3 separate regions of the Homo sapiens genome follow, and all the other regions are linked to region 1. The links come from fine-mapping of genetic effects on gene expression. A gene starts in region 1. Each other region holds a variant in brackets. All regions are shown on one strand. Distances are from middle to middle.

The links. PIP is the estimated chance that this variant, and not a neighbour inherited with it, causes the effect. A credible set is the group of variants that fine-mapping cannot tell apart.
Region 2: its variant is the best candidate, but not a certain one, in a credible set for the expression of BIN1 in whole blood (TOPMed, PIP 0.61).
Region 3: its variant is the best candidate, but not a certain one, in a credible set for the expression of BIN1 in skeletal muscle (FUSION, PIP 0.65).

The regions. Positions count from the first base shown.
Region 1 is chr2:127,104,964-127,112,504 of GRCh38, forward strand. It overlaps BIN1 (bridging integrator 1), which reads right to left and starts at 2,191. Exons shown (of 19, transcript NM_139343.3): 1 at 1,897-2,191. The coding sequence starts at 1,980. It overlaps LOC105373605 (a long non-coding RNA gene), which reads left to right and starts at 2,182. Exons shown (of 4, transcript XR_923311.4): 1 at 2,182-2,852. RefSeq lists silencers at 2,039-2,248, 2,130-2,424, 2,259-2,318.
Region 2 is chr2:127,076,428-127,081,427 of GRCh38, forward strand. BIN1 (bridging integrator 1) reads right to left here. Exons shown (of 19, transcript NM_139343.3): 2 at 199-279. Among named protein-coding and RNA genes, the nearest start is that of BIN1, 28 kb to the right of the region's middle. RefSeq lists an enhancer at 4,578-4,807. The variant T/A (reference allele first, on the strand shown) is at 2,363.
Region 3 is chr2:127,232,588-127,240,267 of GRCh38, forward strand. No RefSeq gene overlaps it. Among named protein-coding and RNA genes, the nearest start is that of CYP27C1, 16 kb to the left of the region's middle. The variant T/TAAA (reference allele first, on the strand shown) is at 4,299.

The DNA of each region.
Region 1 (7,541 bases):
GAAGCCCGGCATGGGCAAGGTCAGCTGTTGGCCAAGACCAGCATGCCTAGCTGACCAACTGTCAGCCAACTGCCCGTGGCCACAGAACAGGGGCTCAAGAGAGAGGGATGGTGTCTCAGGAGCTCAGTGATACATCACCACCTCCTTGGAGGGGACACAGCCCTTGCCTACTGCCCCGAGAATGACATCAAAGATGCTGCTGCAGAGAAAAGACAACCAGGGCAAAGGAGACACACCAAGAGCCTTGGGGAGCCAGGAAGGGGTGGGACACCAGTGGGAAGGGGGCAGGGAACACAGCTCAGCTAACCTCCCTTCCCATTCATCTCCCTGGCCCTTTAGGGAAGGAAGCAGGCTCTGGCCCAGGGCTGCCTGCTCCAGGCACACAGATGGATTACCCAGTCATGGCAGCCCGGAGCAGGGGTGGCTGCATCTGTGCTGCCACCCCCCCACCCCACAACCTGAAGTCTTCCCAGCCCCCAGCCAGCTATTCCTGGGGCTTTAATCCCTCCTCCTCCTCCTCCTCCTCCTCCTCCTCCTCCTTCCCTGGGGTGGGGGGTTGGGGAGCTGGGTCTGGGCAAACCTGGACTTGGCTGAGGGCCCTTCCTTCAATGCACACCCACCCACCTCCTTAGCCAGGAAACACAGGGATGAGCAGTAGGACTCTGAGGGAGGTATGGGGAAGCTCTAGGCGCCCCCCTCTCCCCCATCCCCCAGCAATCACGTGGTTGCATCCTTAGGGAGCCCGCGGGTCTCAGAAGCAAAAGTCATTGTTTATAAACAGCCACCAGGCCTGGCAGGGGAAGGCCGGCCTGTCCCTGCGCCTCCACCCGGCGGCCGCGCAGCGGGTGGGAGAGGGGGCAGGCCTGGCCGCGGGGCACTGGGGGGCCACCCTGGCAGAAACACAGATTCTGCAATCTCAGATTTCAGAGTTGGAGTCGTCAGGGGAAGTGGCGTCAGCAGCTGGCGTGATCCAATTCAATAAACCAGAGGTGGCTTGGGATAGACAACTGACCGGGTGCAGACCCCCGCCCCTCAATCTCTGCATTTCCTGCACGCTCTGGGCACCCTGGGAGGCCCCGGCTCCATCCCCCATTCCAGCTCTCCGCGAGGAGGGGTCGGGTTTCCTGTGGCGCCTTCCACGCGCCTCCTCCAGGCCAGCTCCCCACCCGGCCGTGGGCTCCCAAAGCCAGTGCCGCCACCCGCTCCCCGGCCGCCGGAAACGCTAAGCCCCTGCTGGGGCGAGGGCACCTCCTTGCGGGGTGCGTAGCCCTGGGCTCCCGGTGGGGCCGGGCTGGGCGGGAGCTTCCAGGCCGCAGGCACCTCTCGGGAAAGGAAACCCAATCCCTCCTTCGGCCCACGGAGAACGAAAGTGGAGAAGCAGTGGGAAGGAAGGAACTGTGGGTGCCGGTTCGAGAAGCAGCCTTGGGAGTCCGGGGGAATAGTGTCCCCAGGGGCAGAGGGACATACTCCCTCTCGCCCCGAGCGCCGGCCCAGCCTAGGTTGCCTGCATGGGCCTGGAGAGCTGAGGGTCACCACCTGGCCTCCCAGCCTCCCGGCCCTTGGCCTCCAAAGCGGGGTAGCCTGGAGCGCGCGCCTGAGAAGAGCCTGGAGCAGGGCCGGCCACTGCTGTGCAGCCGAGCCACGAAGGTGCAAAGCGGGGCCCTGTCCTGCCCCGGCCGGGTGTGGGGAGACAGAGGACGCAAACCTAAGAGGGCACCCAGAGCGCCGGGGAACGCAGCCTGGGGACCTCGAAGCCCCTCGAAAGCGCTCCTCTAGAGGTGACAGCACCAGATCCTGGCGAAGGACCAGGCCCCGGGGTCGGAGGATAGGGGGACAGGTGGCCGGGGCTCCGCGGCGGCTGGGACTCCGCGGCTGCTGGGGCTCCGGCTCGCTCACCTTCTCCTGCGCGCGGGTGAGCTTCTTCTGCACGTTGCTGGCGATCTTTCCCGCCGTCACCCCTTTACTGCCCATCTCTGCCATCGCGGCGCAGGCCTCGCCCGGTGGCAGGGGCCGCTCTCGCGCGGGGAGATCTTGCGCGCCGCGCTCCCAGCCCCCAGCCCCGGCCGCGCGTCCAGACCGGCTGCCGCTCCACGCCGCGCACCCGACAGCGGAGCCAACTGACGGAGGCGGAGCGTGCGCCGGACGGGCGAGCGAGCCAGCGAGCTAGCCAGCGAGCGACGCGGGGACAGAGGGAGGGAGAGGGGAGGGGCCGGGCCTCAGGCCGCGGTCGGCGCCCCCCGCCCGCCCCCTCCGGACAATAAGCTGCCTTTTAAAGGGCCACTCCGGGCGCCGGCACCGCCAGGTCCGCGAGGAGGGAGGGGCGCGCGCGGCGCTGGGGCTGCGGCGAGCGGGACTCCCCTGACGCTCCAGCTGCACCGCCCCGGGGCGGGGACTAATCCGCCGGCCTGGCGTCTTGGTCTTCCCCGCAAGCAGTAATCTCCTGCAACCCAGGAAAGGAGACTAGGTGGAGGAGAGGAGTGCTTTCGAAATCAAAGAGAAAGTGCGGCGAAGGGGGCGCGGCCCTGAACAGAGGAGCCGCGGCTGCTGGGAGAACGCGCCCGGAGCCCCCTCCTTTTCCAGGGGCTCACCTCCCGCCCGGTGCCCGGTGCCCGGTGCCCGACGCTCCGCCTCCTCCCAGCCTTCGGCCCTCGGGTTTTCGCCCGGATACCCTAGGCGCCTCCGGGACATCTCCACATCTTTGCCTACGGCGCCTAGCCCAGTACCAACCGGTGCTTGGTCTTCCCGTTCGCTAAAAATTTATTATAATAACAACAACCTAGCATTACTGAGTGCTTACTGTGTACTAAGTGACTTGACAGGCATTATTTCATTCGGTCTCCGTGGCCCTAGAGGTAGGTGCTATTACTGTTCCTACTTTACAACCAACGCGCCGGGATCGAGGAACGAGATCTCTGCCTCTGTCTCCCAGGTGCTCCACCACCATACGCCGGGTTGTCTCCTACCCCCAGCAGGAAGGAATGATTAGTGATCATTATTCCTGGAGAAGATAAGGTTATTGCTAACCAGCTTTGCCAATAGACCAATGACACTTCTTTTAAGTTAATAAATACGTATTGAGTCTGCTGATACCCACCCCCATTCAGCCCTAAAACATGTCAGGGGCTACAGCACTTTGCTGCCCCTGGAAATTTCTAAAGAACTGTTGATTGAGTTGAGCAGAGAGATAGGTCCCGCTGAAGAGGCCTAGACGTGTCTGGTGCACACACAGGAGCCAGGGCTATGGCCTGCAGGACCCGCAGCGGTCAGAGGAGCAGAGCTGGCCAGGGACAGAGGTCCCTGAGAGGCTTCCTGGAGGAACAGGAAGGGCTCTTGCAGACCACAAACCAAGCAGTTTGTACAAATGGAGAAATCGAGTCCCAGGAATGAGAGGTTCAGCCTGGGTTCACACAGGCCATTCCCTCTTCCCTGGAAGGCCCTCCTGCTCTTTCTCCGGCTACTCGGGGTTCTTCCACCACCGCTCAGTGCTGCCCCATGGCCCAGTGTGTTCGTCTGTCCTCTTCCGGGCCTATTATCATGATGTCCCTCGGTATCCCCCAGGGGACTGGTTCCAGCACATCCGTGGATACCAAAATCCAGGGATGCTCAAGTCCCTCATATGAATTGACACAGTATCTGCATATAGCGTACACAAATCCTCCAAAATACTTTAAATTATCTCTAGATTCTTGTAATAGCTAATACAATTTAAATACTATGTAAATAGTTGTTAACGCTGTATTTTTTATTTATTTATTTATTTATTTTTAGACAGAGTCTCACTCTGTCGCCAGTCTGGGGTGCAGTGGCGCAATCTGGGCTCACTGCAACCTCTGCCTCCCGGGTTCAAGTGATTCTCCTGCCTCAGCCCCCCGAGCAGCTGGGACTACAGGCACGTGCCACCATGCCCAGCTAATTTTTGTATTTTTAGTAGAGACGGAGTTTCACCATGTTGGCCAAGATGGTCTCCATCTCCTGACCTCGTGATCCTCCCGCCTTGGCCTCCCAAAGTGCTGGGATTATAGGTGTGAGCCACCGTGCCCGGCCTTGTTTTTTATTTATATTATTTTATTGTTGTAGTCTTACTTTTTATTGTATTTTTCCAAATATTTTCAGTCCACAGTTGGTTGGATCCATGGATGCCCAACCCACAGATGCAGAGGGCTGACTGTATTCTTATTCTGCAGGAAGACAGACTGAGGCGCCGCTGATGTAGGTCACACAGACAGCAAATGATAAGCAGAGATTCTGCATCAAGCCTTCCTGCACCAATGCCCTCAAAAGCACCAAGCGCTGCATGAGTGAAAAGCATCTGTCAAAATTATTATAAACTCATGCCCGATTTGTGAGTCACAAAAGCAAAACCTACACAGTCTGGGCTTCTAAAGCAGCTTCCTCCTAAAAGCTCAACATGCTTTCAGCTCATGATCTCCTTCCTCCTCATTTTCTGTTGGTCGTTTTTCTAACCATTCTCTAAAAGTGATTTCTTCCAACACTCCTCTGAGGAAAGGAGGAAATGAGCAAAGTCAAATTGCATTACAGTCAGCCCCCAGGGAACAGTGGGAGATTCTGCTTCACTGGACTCTGGTGTTTCTAAATATCGCTTGACAGAAAAATTGGAAGCAACGGAAGTGTTCATTAGAGGGATGGGGTCAGCTGTGACAGCACAGCCACAGGAGGGGCCATTGGGAATCATTTAAAACAACCATTACCGAGACTACGTAGCAACAAGAAAATAATGCTTAGGGCATAATTATGAAGGAAAGGAAAAGATAGGAAATTGTACTTGCAACCATATAAAAATAAATTAAAATAAATTAAAAGCTCATGATCAATGTCTTGAAAGAACAATGCATAAAGGAAGCAGATGTGTTAGGGTCCAGGCATTAAGGCTGACTTCTTTCCCCCTTAATTTCCTTAATATTCTATAATATGACATAATGCCTTGCCTATAATCCCAGCACTTTGGGAGGCCAAGGCAGGCGGATCACTTGAGGTTGGGAGTTCGAGACCAGCCTAACCAACATGGAGAAACCCTGTCTCTACTAAAAATACAAAATTAGCCGGGCGTTGTGGTGCATGCCTGTAAGCCCAGCTACTCGGAAGACTGAGGCAGGAGAATCACTTGAACCTAGGAGGCAGAGGTTGCGGTGAGCCGAGATCGCACCATTGCACTCCAGCCTAGGCAACGAGAGCAAAACTCCATCTCAAAAAAAAAAAGAATCACAGCTCTGTTTTTTTAGAGGTGATTTTTTATCAGATCGCTAGATTAAAAAGATATTTCTAAACACAAAAGCACTGGAGAATATATTGAAATTTTAAAATGCTTGCTTTGAGGTACATAAAAATTAGAATTCTTAAACTTCAGAAAATACCATAAAAACATAGGATAAAAGTTTGGGAGGAAATGATCTAAAAATGTTAGTACAAGTTCAAGGGGTAGAATGTAGATTTTTACTTTTTTCTGTATAATTTTCTATAGTATGTTATTTTTTTTTACCATGACAGCCCGTTATTTTAATTACCAGGAAAAGAGTTATTCCCATTTTGAAAATAAGTTTGACATAAAAATTAAACTGTAAGAAACTAGGGAAAATTTTTTTGGCAATAAAATAGAACTCTTACAAATTCATAAGAAAAACATTAAAACCCCAATATATAGTAGACAATTTATAAAATTGGATATTCAAATAATTAATAAATAGGTTTTCGAAAGTCAGACTTACCAGACAAAAAGAAAGGTTCATTAAATCAATGAAATACCATTTCTGTTTTCATTTTCATCAAATCAACAAATTATTTTTTAAATTATGTTACTTAATAAAACCATAGAGACAGAAACTCACATTCTACTTCTGAGAGTGTAAACAGATAACAGAATTTCTAGAAAGCAATCTTGTAATAGAATAAGAATAACCAAAATATCCATATTCTTCCACCCTATAATTCCAAGTCTATGATTTAATTCAAAAATTTGGCAAAGCTTTCACCACACAGATGTTCATCACATTATTTATAATAATGCAAAACTGAACACATCTAAATATCACCACCTGAATGCCGAATGATTAACTAAACTATAGTATGGCCATGTATGAAATGTTTACCAAAAGAATATGTTCTTGAAGTTTCTCATGATAGGGAAATGTGATGTTAACAGGATAATACAGTTTAATGTAAACAGTATCGTGCCAGCCGCGATCCAAAACGTGATTGATATCTCCAGGTGGAGCAATTCGGGGTGGGGTTTTTTTCTCCTACTTCTTTTTCTTTTTATTTTCCAAACTTTGTACATGTACTCTTTTTGTCATCAGAAAGAAGTGCTATTAAAAATACAAATTGAAATGAGGACAATGTCCCCTGGGGCAATAGTTGGGAAACCTCAGTGTGGCAGAATAGAAAGATAAAGCACACAGGCAGAGGGAGTGTGCCGTGCATCCAAACGGTGAGGGCTGGAGAAGCCATGTTTCTGTGTTTGTTTGCTTGTTTGTTTTAAATAGACTTTATTTTTATTTTTTTTTTTTTGAGACGAAGTCTCGCTCTTGTACCCCAGGCTGGAGTGCAATGGCTCGATCTCAGCTCACTGCAACCTCTGCCTCTCGGGTTCAAGTGATTCTCCTGCCTCAGCCTCCCGAGTAGCTGGGATTACAGGCGCCCAACACCACACCCAGCTAATTTTTGTATTTTTAGTAGAGATGGGGTTTCACCGTGTTGGCCAGGCTTTTAGAACACTTTTAGGTTCAGAGCAAAAGTAAGCAGAAGGTACAGAGATTTCCCATAACCTTTGCCCCACACATGCACAACCCCCCTCACTATCAACATCCCCAGCACAGTGGGACATTTGTTACAACTGAGGCACCTCCGTTGTTGCATCATTATCCCCCATAGTTCATAGTTTATGTGAGAACTCACTCTTGGCTTGTACGTTCTATGGGTCTGGGCAAGTGTACAATGGTACGTGTCTACTGTTAGAGTATCATATAGAACAGTTTCGCTGCCCTAAGAATCCTCTGTGCTCTGCCTGTTCATCCCTCCCTCCACCCCCCAGCCCCTGGCAACCACTGATCTTTTTGCTGTCTCCATAGTTTAGCCTTTTCTAGAATAAATGCCGTATTATTGGAACCATACAGTTTGTAGCCTTTTCAGACTGGCTTCTTTCACTTAGCAATATGCATCTAAGTTTCCTCCATGTCTCTTCATGGCTTGATCATTTCCTCTGGCACTGAGTAATGTTCCCTTTTCTGGATGCACCACACTTTATTTACCCACTCACCTATTGCAGAACATCTTGGTTGCTTCTGAGTTCAGGCCATTATGAATAAAGCTGCTATAAACATCCATGTGCAGGTTTTTGTGTGGACATAAGCGTTTGACTCCTTTGGGTAAATATCAAGAAGCATGATGGCTGAATCGTATGGTAACAGTGTGTTTAGTTCTGTAAGGAACTGTCAAATTCTCTTTCAAAGTGGCTGGACCATTTTGCATTCTCACCAGCAATGAATGAGAGTACCTGTTGCTCCATCCAAATCCTTGCTAGCATTTGG
Region 2 (5,000 bases), 30 kb before region 1:
CATACATACCCCATCCCTCTTCCTTCCCAGCATGCATTGCCAGTGCTCCCTCCTCTAGGAAGTCTTACATGATCTTGTCAGCCCACACTGATTACCCTCCTCCAAGCTCTCGTACTCCACAAATTCAGCTCGTGCCATTTTTCACCTGGCAGCCGAATTTTCACAAACTCCCTAAGGCCAAGGGCCACCCACACTCACCAGCTGCTTGTTGAAATTCTGGACGCACTGCTCAAACTGCTCATCCTTGGTCTCATCTGCCTTCCCCAGCTTCTGGAGAACCTGCCGAAGCCAAGAGAGAAGGGGAGAGTGTTACCTTGGAAAGGAGAGTGGTCAAACCAAGAGTGCTCAGTCACCAACAGCACAGACCAGGGGCTGGGAAGTCTCTAGCCAACATCACCCAGCCCAGGGTGCCCACCCAGGGCTGCAATCCCAGGGCATGGCTGGGTCCATCAGGTTTTCAGGCCTCCCCACCCTCTACCCAGGGCTCGACAATAGGCCAAAAATGGAGCTTAGGACAGGCTTGACGTAGTGACCACAGCCAGGAGGAGGGAGGCTTCAAAGATGGCAAGAAGGATCGGGCACCCTCCTAGCTGATCTCACACTGCACCCCTGGGTGCTCCGCCCCCACCCTGGAAGCTGAAAAGTGAGCCACGCAGGGGAGGGGCCAAGCAGGAGCAGCCTCACTTCTCCGCATGACTCTATTCCCTGGGCCCAGGCCCATGAATGCCACAGGCAACAGCAGAGCAGGCCCTGAACCGGCAGGAGCCATCCCGGAACAAGGAGGGCAGCGAGCGGTGGCCAGGAGCTGCCGGGGGCCACGCAGAGTCTGCTTCTGATCTGACTGGGTTTTTAGATGTGACCTGCCCCAGGCACTCTGCTCTGCACAGCCCACACACACACACACACACACAAAACACACAAGGGCACACACATGAGCTCACAGCTCTGCTCCCAACCATGAGTCTCAGAGGTGGACTCCCCCTCAACCCCCCACGATGAGTGGCAGGGGGAGATGAAGGATGGGTGGGCAAGGGCAGAGAAGAGGAGCCACACCAGGAGAGGGGAAAGCTCTAGGAAAGGAGGGCGCTGGCCAGGACCCTGAGAACATATGCTGACCATCACGCTCTCCCAGACTTCCCTCTCTGGGCCCTGCTCCTCCAATCCCAGAGCTCCACATGACGGAGAGAGAGGTGGGAGCAGGGAGACAAAATACAGAGGCAAGGAGCGGTGGTGGGGCACGGTAGGAAAGAGCAGGAGAAGAAAAAGACAAAGAGCTGGGGCACAGAAAAGGGATGAGGAGTGCCAGATGGGTTTGCAGGAGAGCAGAGGGGAAGACCAGGGTGGCGGCGGGACACACCCGTCTGCAGCCAAAGAGGCACCTCCATCAGGGCGGCAGAAAGGCCAACACTGATGTCTCAGCAGAGGCCTCTCCCAGGCAGTGGGCAAGACCTCACAAGAATGAGAAGGAAACGGGGGTAGGGGATGGGAGTGGAAAGCAAAGGGAGAAAAAGGTGGGCCCAGGAGCGGTGGGGAGCCCCAGGAGCAAAGGGCCAGCCCAGCATCTGCTGAGGCCAGTAGGTCTGCAGACATCCCTCCCTTCCAAGACCCGGAGCCAGCCCATGCTGCCAGGAACATCAGCTTTGGGGCCCAGGGCCCAGGCCACGGTCCTGGACCAACGGATGCCTGGTACCAGGACACAGCCAGGACCCTTCCCACCCTGCCGGCCCTTGCAGGTCCTGTGCTGCCCTGCTGCACTTCCCCCCCCAGCCAGGCCCAGAAGCCTTGGCAAGGCCAGCTGCTCTTGGCCATCTCTCACCAAGCACTTGCTCTGTGCCTGGCCTTGGGCACCTTGGCCGGTACAGCAGAGAGGAATCAGATGTGGGTCTCTGTCCTGACATGGGGGAACACTTAAGGCTGTGGGACCCTGGGGGTAGAGATCTCTTCTAGCCTGGGCAGTCAGTGAGACTTCCTGGAGTGGGTGGCAGCTCAGACAGAGGGGAGAGGTTGCAACAAAGGTAAGGAGACCAGAAAGATGGAGCATCTTACTGGGGAGTTTTGAATTGCTCAAGGTGACTAGAGGTCACAGAGGATGGAGTGGGAAAGTGAGAGTGGCAGCAGGGGGCAGGTGGGCACCGGGAGGCAGCCACCGATGATGTTGTGCTACAGCGGTCGGGACACAGCCCCTTGGGCAACTGCAGCTGGATGCCAAGGGCTGACACAGGGATGAGAGAAAAACCAAAACAAAACCCCCACATGAGCAAGAAAATGTACACTGCACAACTTGCAGGCTCCCCACTGCTGCCCCTCCCTGGCAGCCACATCCAGAAGGGACCCCCCAGAAAGTGGGCTGAGCTGGGGAGGT[T/A]CCTCACCCGGCTCTGCAAAGAGCTTGGGTAGGTGACTCAGCCCCTCTGCTCAGGCACCCACCCCACAGCCCCACCCCCTCCAAAGAGAGGAATAGACCACCACATAGAAAAGAACTCCCAGAAGTCTACCAGAGCCACCAGAGAGAGCCAGAAGCTCTCAGAAACAGGGCAGGGACTGCCCAGCTCCCAAGGCAAGAGCACCAGGAAGGATGCCCCTTCCACGCCCTGCCCTCCCTCTCCCCAGGAAGACAGACACACTCAGCCAGCAAAAGGTCCCCAGTCTTCCCCACCCACACTGGCCACCAGGGCTCCTGAGGTGTACAGAGACAGACACACACTCGACCCAGTTCCCAAACACTGCTGTGTGCTCTGCACAGACAGCTGGAGAACTGGGGAGATCTTCCAGCCTTGAGAACGAGACACCAGCCCAGGTGAGACTCCACGCAGCAGTGAGAAGACCCTTGGGAAAAGGGACAGCTACTCTCTGAGCCTCAATCTACAAAATGAAGTGAACACTGGCACCCTCCTCAAGGATTACAAAGATCATGTCTATAAAGTGCAGAGCAGTACCTGGCCCATGATATTCAAGAAATGGCAAATCCCTAAAAGGCCTTCAGAGCAGCCTTCACACAGGTGGGGGATGGGCCTGACTGACACCGCCAGCCCTCACACCGGGTCCAGGCTGACGGCATCCCAAGATGTGAGACAGAAGTCACAGACGCGCACACTCTACCTGCACATGGCAAACTCCTATGCATCCTTCAAAACCTCACTCAGGTGACATCACTGTGAACTGTCCCTGATCTCTCCTTTCCTCAAAACACTCTGTACCACTTAGAGCTTTCCTCACTGCTATGTGATGTGCCTGTGTGCCTCACACCCTCACCCTGAAGGAACAGCTTGAGGTCAGGGACACTGTTCCAGTCATCTCTGTGTCCCCAACACCCACACAGGGCTAAGCACAGGACAGACACACAAGATATTCTCAGCGGCTGCTGCTCATCTGAGCTGTGGGCTTTGAGGGCAGAGACATGACCCTAAACAAAACAACCCACCTCTCAGCCTCAGGCTCCTCCCAGACAAAATGGAAGGGTAATGTACAGAAAGCCCTCAGCCCTGAGGGGTGACAGCAAGCCTGAGGCTGAGCCAGTCTCCCCACTCTGCGAGACCTCAGGCTGCTGAAGCTCTCAGTGCTCCAGTGCCCCCGCCTTGGAAATGGGAGGAATAACAAGGCCACAGCATGGCCGAGGCCCAGGGAAGACCCATGGGCGAGGCTGGCCTTGGCCACATGCCATCCTCACTGCACCTACCCCCATTTCATCCATGAGGGAACGCAGGCAAGTGGCCTGGGGTCCCCATCCTCAAGGAGCTCCTGGTGTGGCTACCACAGGGAAAAACAATCTGGGCACCCCCTGCCCCAGAACAGGAGCTGGGACAAGGCCGTGAGCCCTGGGACACAGATCTCCCACCCCATCCGTTCCACACTTGGTTAGTGGGGCCTCCCCTGTGCCGAGCTCACAGGCAGACCACTGAGGGACACAGGGGACTCCAGGTGTCCAGGAGGGGCTGGCCCAGCAGCGACTAAGGAAAGCTGGGCAGGACAGTTGTGCTGGGTTTTGAAGGATGAGCAGGAGTTGGGTGAGGAGGAGGGTCTGGCGGCACAGGCCAGGATTTGCACTCTGTCCAGGGTTACTGGGTGAGGGCCCCTTAGACAATCAGTTCCACCTACACTCATCACACACTTATCACGCACACTCACTCTGTGATAAACAAAGGGGAGCCTTTGAAAACTTGGCGGCGGACGAGACACACAGAGGCCCAGGCGGCAGAGGCAGCCACAGAGCCAACAGTCCCAGGAGCTTTATCAGTGCCACACCCAATCACCTCCTATCAGAGCTTCCTCTCACCATGTCCTCAACCCAAGGCCAGATGTGAGTGGAGCTGAAGTGCCTTGGAGGGGACACCCCAGGGCAGGGCAGGGAGGGGGGGCAGGTGGCAGGAATGACAAAGTGTGAACCCGTGGCCAGCTCCAGAACCTCCTCCTGCAATCATCCACAGGGTTCAGCCTCGCTGGGCCTCGGCTGTGGAAGGAAACCCTCCCAAGGCTCCTCCCTAGAAAGGCTGGGTGGTTCACTGAGTTGACGCCATGCCTCCGGCACCCGGGTCCACAGGGGCTCAGTGGGAGCATCCCGTGGGTGGGTGCCCCTCCCCAGCCCTCCGCCAAGGCCTTTGTCATGGCCCAGTGAGAGGGCAGAAGGCCCTGGCGTCAGCCGCTCCCTGTGGGTACAGGGAGTCCTGCCACCCTCCAACAGCCCCCGCATGGCAGGCAAGGCCCTGACCCACAGCGTGAGTCATGGGGCACAGGCAGTGCACGGCCACCGAACCCAGAAGGAGGAAGGGTGCCCAGGCCTGTCTTGTTTGAGCCAGGAGCAGCTCACCACGTACAGCACCCACCCACCATGCACGCACTTCAAGTCACCAGGGCCGCCTCCTCAGAAGGGAAGTGTCCTTATGTGACAGATGGCAGGTGAGCACAAACAAATCAGGACACAGCCTGACACCGTCCAGTCAGGAGGGGCCAGGAGCTCTAGCCGCCACAGTGAGGAGGGCCGGGTCTTCGGGCTCACCCGGCTGGGC
Region 3 (7,680 bases), 130 kb after region 1:
GGGCATGTTATTGTGATGGATGACTTCCAACGTCACCTGTAGTATGGAGAAGCTCTGCTATTTCAGCACTGAGCCCTCACTGTTCCCCATTTCTTCCTGGGCTCTCTTCTTGTTGGCCACTTCCAGGCAGAGGGGGAAAGCACCAAGAGCCTTTGAAAATCACAGAATAGATTCAAACCCTGAGTTTCTCAATTACCAGCTATTTGGCTGGACATCTTAGTCAGCCTCTCTGAGCCACCGTCTCCTTGCGTGGACCATGGAGATGGTAACAATTGAATGCTGGTAGAGGGCACTCATAAACCCATAAAGTCATAGTTCATGATGAAGGACTGAAGTCTTCCCCCAAGGCCAGGTGCAAGACAGGCACCTCTGCTGTTGCCATTTCTATGCAACATTGTACTGGGATCCTAGTCAGGGCAATTACATGAGCAAAAGAAATAAAAGAAATTAGTGTTGAAAAGGAAGAAGTAAAACTTCAGTTTTGCAAACAACATAATCTTGTATGTATAAAATTGTAAGAACCACCCACAAACACACATAAAATGCTATTAGAGCTAATAAACAAGTTCAGCAAAGCTGCAGGACACATGGTCAATAAACAATGCTGGTTGTATCTCTACCTACTAGCAACGAACAATCTGGAAATGAAATGAAGAAAATAACTTCACTTACAATAGCATCAAAAAAATAACACACTTACTTAAGAATAAATTTAACAAAAGAAGTACAAGACTTAGACTTTGAAAGCCATGAAACATTGCTGAAAGAAATATTTAAGACCTACATTAATGGAAAGACATCTCATTTAGTACATGAATTGGGAGACCTAATCTTACTAATCTTACTAATGCTCCTCAAATTGATATACTCTTACAATGTAATCCCTATCAAAATTCCAGCTGCCCTTTTTGCAGTAATTGGCAATTTGATTATAAAATATGTATGGCAATGCGAGGGACCCAGAATAGCCAAAAACATTCTTGAAAAGGAAGAACAAGGCCGGGCGTGGTGGCTCACGCCTGTAATCCCAACACTTTGGGAGGCCGAGGCAGGCGGATCACGAGGTCAGGAGATTGAGACCATCCTGGCTAACACAGTGAGACTCCGTCTCTACTAAAAAAGAAAATACAAAAAATTAGCCGGGTGTGTTGGTGGGCGCCTGTAGTCCCAGCTACTTGGGAGGCTGGGGCAGGAAAATGGCGTGAACCCAGGAGGCAGAATTGCAGTGAGCCCTTGAGCCGAGATCGCGCCACTGCACTCTAGCCTGGGCAACAGTGTGAGACTCCGTCACAAAACAAAAAAAAAGGAAGAACAAAGTTGAAGGACTCATACATCCTCATTTCAAAACTTACTAAAACTTGCGTCATAGCTACAATACTCCAGATGACATGGTACTGGCATGCAGATAGACATCTACATCAGAGGAATAGAATTGAGAGTCCAGAAATAACCCCATAGATCTATGATCAATTTCTTTTATGGTCAATTTCTTTTATTTATTTATTTACTTATTTACTTACTTACTTTTTAGAGATGAGGTCTTGCTATGTTGACCAGGCTGGTCTCAAACTCCTAGCCTCAAGCGATCCTCCCGTCTTGGCCTCCCAAAGTGCTAAGATTACAGGTGTAAGCCACCACACCTGGCCCAATTTCATTTTTGACAAAGATGCCAACACAGTTAAATGGAGAAAGAATAGTCTTTTCAACAAATGGTACTGGGACGACTGGATATCCACATGCAAAAGAATGAAGCTGGGCTTCTACCTCATACCATATATAAAAATTAACTCAAAATAGACCAAAGGCCTAAATATAAGAGACAAAACTATAAAATCCTTAGAAGAAAATGTAAGAGTAAATGTTTGTGACCTTGGATTACACAATGGTTTCTTAGGTAAGACACTTAATGCAAGTACAAGAAAAGAAAGGCTAGGTAGGCGCAGTGGCTCACGCCTGTCATCCCAACAATTTGGGAGGCCAAGGCGAGTGGATCACTTGAGGTCAGGAGTTCAAGACCAGTCTGGCCAACATGGCGAAACACCATCTCTACTAAAAATACAAAAATTAGCCGGGCGTGGTGGCGGGTGCCTGCAATCCCAGCTACTTGAGAGGCTGAGGCACAAGAATTGCTTGAACCCAGGAGGCAGATGTTGCAGTGAGCTGAGATCGCACCACTGCACTCCAGCCTGGACGACAGAGCAAGACTCTGTCTCAAAAAAAAAAAAAAAAAGGAAAGAAAGAAAAGAAAAAGTAGGTAAGTTGGAGCTCACTACAATTTAAAACTTTTGTGCTTCTGGGCCAGGTACAGTGCTTCATGCCTGCAATCCCAGCACTTTGGGAGGCCGAGGCTGGCGGATCACGAGGTCAGGAGTTCGAGACCAAACTAGCCAACATAGTGAAACCTTGTCTCCACTAAAAAAAAAAAAAAAGAAAAGAAAATTAGCAGGGCATGGTGGTGCGTGCCTGTAATCCCAACTACTCAGGAGGCTGAGGCAGGAGAATCACTTGAACCCGGGAGGCAGAGGTTGCAGTGAGCTGAGATTGTGCCATGACACTCCAGCTGGGGCGACAATGCAAGACTCCGAGAGAGAGAGAGAAAAAAGAAAGAAAGAAAAAGAAAGAAAGAAAGAAAAAAAGAAAGAAAGAAAGAAAGAAGGAAGGAAGGAAGGAAGGAAGGAAGGAAGGAAGGAACAAAGAAAGAAAGGAGGGCGGGAGGAAGGAAGGAAGAAAGGAAGGAGAAAGAGAGGAAGGAAGGAAGGAAGGAAGAAAGGAAGGAAGGAAGGAAGGAGAAGAAAGAAAGAAAGAAAGACAACCAGACTTCCAGTTTTCAGTCTGGCGTGTAAAAAGTTTGGGAGTCGTCATTCCCACCCTAACAACAAGAAAGAAGTTTGACAAGCTGAAAATCAACTGCTCTTCTTAGATCCTGCAGATAATTGAGGTCATAGGGTAAATTACTGTCTTACAAATTGGAGAGACAGATGGCAGATACAAAGAATCATGACTTGATTCACTACTTGAGTGGAAGCTCAAGAGCAGAAACCTTTATGGGAACCAGTACCAGGGTAGGAAAACTTAAACTGCAATTGCTGAATTGCTAGAGGCTCTGTTTGGACTGCTTGAGAGTTAAAAACTCCAGGGAGCCCAGTCTTAGGGGGGCCCCAACACTTGTCTGAGTTTTACTTCCAGAAGGCTTACCAGGTCATCAAGGTGAAGAGAAAAATCCCTTGGTATTTCTGTCAGTGGGGAGGGTGAAATAAGCCAGGGCATTCTATTGTTAATAAAGCCTGCCCTCAAGAGAAATGAGTTTACCAGAGCTTAACTGAGGTTTTACTAACGCTAATTGTCCTGGGGAAAGGGAAATATCCTAGTCTAGTCCCTTCTAGCTATCCTGTCCCAACAAAGGGGGAGACACTGAGAAGTACTTGTGAAGGTCACAGCACAGGAACACAGGCTCATTAAAAGACTGAGATTTAATCAAAGAACTAGAGAAGGTTTGTTCTGCCCCCACATCTTACCAGCACATCAACAGGGCTTCTGTGCAACAGAGGAGACAAAACTAACATTAGAGGAACTTTTAATATCTCTGAAACATACAGGTACATCAAATAATCAAAACAGCTTAACTCTTTGTCAAATACACATAAAGCATCATACCAAAGGCCTATTTGCCTAGGTTCTTTTTCTCAGTACCTAATGTCTGGCTTCCAACAAAAAATTACAAGGCATCCTATAAGACAAAAAATGTTTTAAAGAAACAAGGTAACCATCAAAACAAGATTCAGATGTGGCAAAGATGTTGGGATTATCAGACTGTGAATTTAAAAACACTATAATTAATATGCTAAGAGCTCTAATAGAAAAAATGAACCATATGCAATGAGAGATGGATACTGCAAGCATAGTGATGGAAACAATAAGGAAGAATCAAAAGGAAAGAAACGCTAGAAATAAAGAACACTGTCATGGAAATAATGCATTTGATGGGCTTTTAAATAGACTGGACACATGGCCGGGCGCAGTGGCTCATGTCTGTAATCCCAGCACCTTGGGAGGCTGTGGTGGCCAGATCACCTGAGGTCAGGAGTTTGAGACCAGCCTGGCCAACATAGTGAAACCCTGCCTCTACTAAAAATACAAACGTAAGCTGGACATGGTGGCACATGCCTGTAATCCCAGCTACTCAGGAGGCTGAGGCAGGAGAATCACTTGAACCTGGGAGGCAGATGTTGCAGTGAGCTGTGATCATGCTATTGCACTCTAGCCTGGGTGACAGAGCAGGATTCCATCTCAAAAAAAGT[T/TAAA]AAAAAAAAAAAAAATAGACTGGACACAGCCAAAGAAAGAATCACTGAGCTTGAAGACATGTCAATAGAAACTTCAAAAACTAAATGGTAAGAGAAAAAATAATTTTAAAAAGCAGAACAGAACATCCAATAACTGTGGGACAATTTTAAATGGTGTGACATATGCATAATGAATATCAAAACAAGAAAAAAAAGAAACAGAAAAAATATTTGAAGTAATAATGACTGAGAATTTTCCAAAATGAATGACAGACACCAAACCCCAGATTCAGAAGCTCAGGAAATCAAAGAGGATAAATACCAAAAAAATTTACACCTAGATATAGCATATTCAAACCACAGATAATCAAAGACAAAGAGACAATTTTGAATTAAGTCAAAGGGAAGAAAACACTGTACCTATGAGGAGCAAGTATAATAATTAATCAGAGTTCTCTTCATAGGCCACGCAAGTAAGAAGAGCTTGGAGCAAAATATTTTAAGTGTTGACAGAAACAACAACAAACACCACCACCAGAATCCTATACCCAGAAATATTATCCTTGAAAAGTAAAGGAGAAATAAAGACTTTCACAGACAAACAAAATTGAGAAAACTTGTCACAATTGACATACCTTGCAAGAAATGTTGAAATTCCTCAGAAAGAAAGAAAATAGTATACATCAGTGATATGGTTAGACTTTGTATCCCCGCCCAAATCTCATCTCGAATTGTAAGCCCCATTATCTCCTCATGTCAAGGGAGAGACCAGATGGAAATAAATGAATCATGGGGGCAGTTTCCCCCATGCTATTCTCATGATAGTGAATTCTCATGAGCTGATAATTTTATAAGGGGCTCTTCCCCCTTTGCTCAGCACTTCTCCTTTCTGCCTCCTTGTGAAGAAGGCACCTTGCTTCCCCTTTGCCTTCTGCCATGATTGTAAGTTTCCTGAAGCCTCCCCAATCGTGCTGAACTGTGAGTCAATTAAACCTCTTTCCTTTATAAATTACCCAGTCTTAGGCAGTTCTTTATAGCAGTATAAAAACGGACTAATACAGTAAATTGTTACCAGAAGTGGGGTGCTGCTATAAAGATACTGAAAATGTGGAAGCAACTTTGGAACTGGGTAACAGGCAGAGGTTGGAACAGTTAAGAGGGCTCAGAAGATGACAGAAGGATGTGGGAAACTTTAAAACTTCCTAGAGATTTATTAAATAGCTTTGACCAAAATGCTGATAGTGATATGGACAATGAAGTCCAGCCTGAGGTGGTCTCAGATGGAGATGAGGAACTTGTTGGGAACTAGAATAAAGGTGACTCTTGCTATGCTTTAGCAAAGAGACTGGTGGCATTTTGCCCCTGGCCTGGAGATCTGTGGAATTTTGAACTTGAGAGAGATGATTTAAGGTATCCAATGGAAGAAATTTCTAAGCAGCAAAGTATTCAAGAGGTGACCTGGGTGCTGTTAAAAGTGTTTGATTTTATGCATTCCCAAAGAGATGGTTTGGAATTGGAACTTCATGTTTGAAAGAGAAGCAGAGCATACACGTTTGGATAATTTGCAGCCTGATGATGCAATAGAAAAGAAAAACCCATTTTCTGAGGAGAAATTCAAACCGGCTTCAGAAGTATGCATAAGTGACAAGGAGCCAAATGTTAATAACCAAGACAATGGGGAAAATGTCTCCAGGACATGTCAGAGGTGTTCACAGCAGCTCCTCCCATCACAGGCCTAGAGGCCTAGAAGGAAAAAATGGCTTCATGGGCTGGGCCCAGGGTCTTGTTGCTTTATGCAGTCCTGGGAGTTGGTGCCCTGCATCCCAGCTGTGGCTAAAAAGGGCCAAGGCACAGCTCGGGCCATGGCTTCACAGGATGCAAGCCCCAGGCCTTGATGGCTTACATGTGTTGTCGGGCCTGCAGGTGCACAGAAGTCAAGAATTGAGGTTTGGGGCCAGGCACAGTGGCTCATGCCTGTAATCCCAGCACTTTGGGAGGCCAAGGGGGATGGATCACATAAGGTCAAAAGTTCGAGACCAGCCTGGCAAACATAGTGAAACTCCGTCTCTACTAAAAATACAAAAATTAGCTGGGTATGATGGTGTGTGCCTGTAGTCCCAGCTACTTGGGAGGCTGAGATGGGAGAATCACTTGAACCTGGGAAGTGGAGGTTGCAGTGAGCCAAGATTGCACCACTGCACTCCAGCCTGGGCAACAGAGTGAGACTCTGTCTCAAAAACAAAAACAAAATTGAGGTTTGGGAGCCTCCACCTAGATTTTAGAGGATGTATGGAAATGCCTGGATGACCAGGCAGAAGTTTGCTGCAGGGGCAAGGCCTTCATAGAGAACCTCTGCTAGGGCAGTGCAAAAGGGAAATATAGGGTCAGAGCCCTGACAGAGTCCCCACTGGGGCACTGCCTAGTGGAGCTGTGAGAACAGGGCCACTGCCCTCCAGACCCCAGGATGGTAGGTCCACTGACTGCTTGCACCATGTACCCAGAAAAGCCACAGACACTCCATGCCAGCCCATGAAAGCAGCTGAGAGGAGGCCTGTTTCATCAGCATGATCTGGATGTGAAACATGGAGTCAAAGGAGGTCATTTCAGAGCTTTAAGGTTTGACTGTCCTGCTGGATTTCAGGCCTGCATGGGGCCTGTCATCCTTTTGTTTTGGCCAATGTCTCCTATTTGAAATGGGTGTATTTACCCAATGCCTGTACCCCCATTGTGTCTAGGAAGTACCTAATTTGCTTTTGACTTTACAGGCTCATAAGCGGAAGGGACTTCCCTTGTCTTAGATGAGACTTTGAACTTGGACTTTTGGGTTAATCCTAGAATGAACAAAGACTTTGGAGGACTGTTTGGAAGGCATGATTGGTTTTGAAATATGAAAGGGACATGAGATTTGGGAGGGGCCAGGGGCAAAATGATATGATTAGGCTTTGTGTCCCCCTACTCAAATCTCATCGTGAATTGTAATCCCCATAATCCCTACATGTCAAGGGAAAGACCGGATGGAGATAATTGAATCATAGGGGCTGTTTCCCCCATGTTGTTCTCATGACAGTGAGTGAGTTCTCACGAGATCTGATGGTTTTATAGAGTTCTTCCCCCTTTGCTTGGCACTTCTACTTCCGGACGCCTTGTGAAGAAGGTGCCTTGCTTCCCCCTTTGCCTTCTGCCATGATTATCAGTTTCCTGATGCCTCCCCAGCCATGCTGAATTGTGAGTCAATTAAACCTCTTTCCTTTATAAATTACCCAGTGTTGGGCACTTCTTTATAGCAGTATGAAAATGGACTAATACAATCAGAAACTCAGATCTACATAAATAATGAGTATTACAGAAGGAACTCATGAAGATAAAGTAAAATCTCTTATTTTTCTTATTCTCAATTGATATA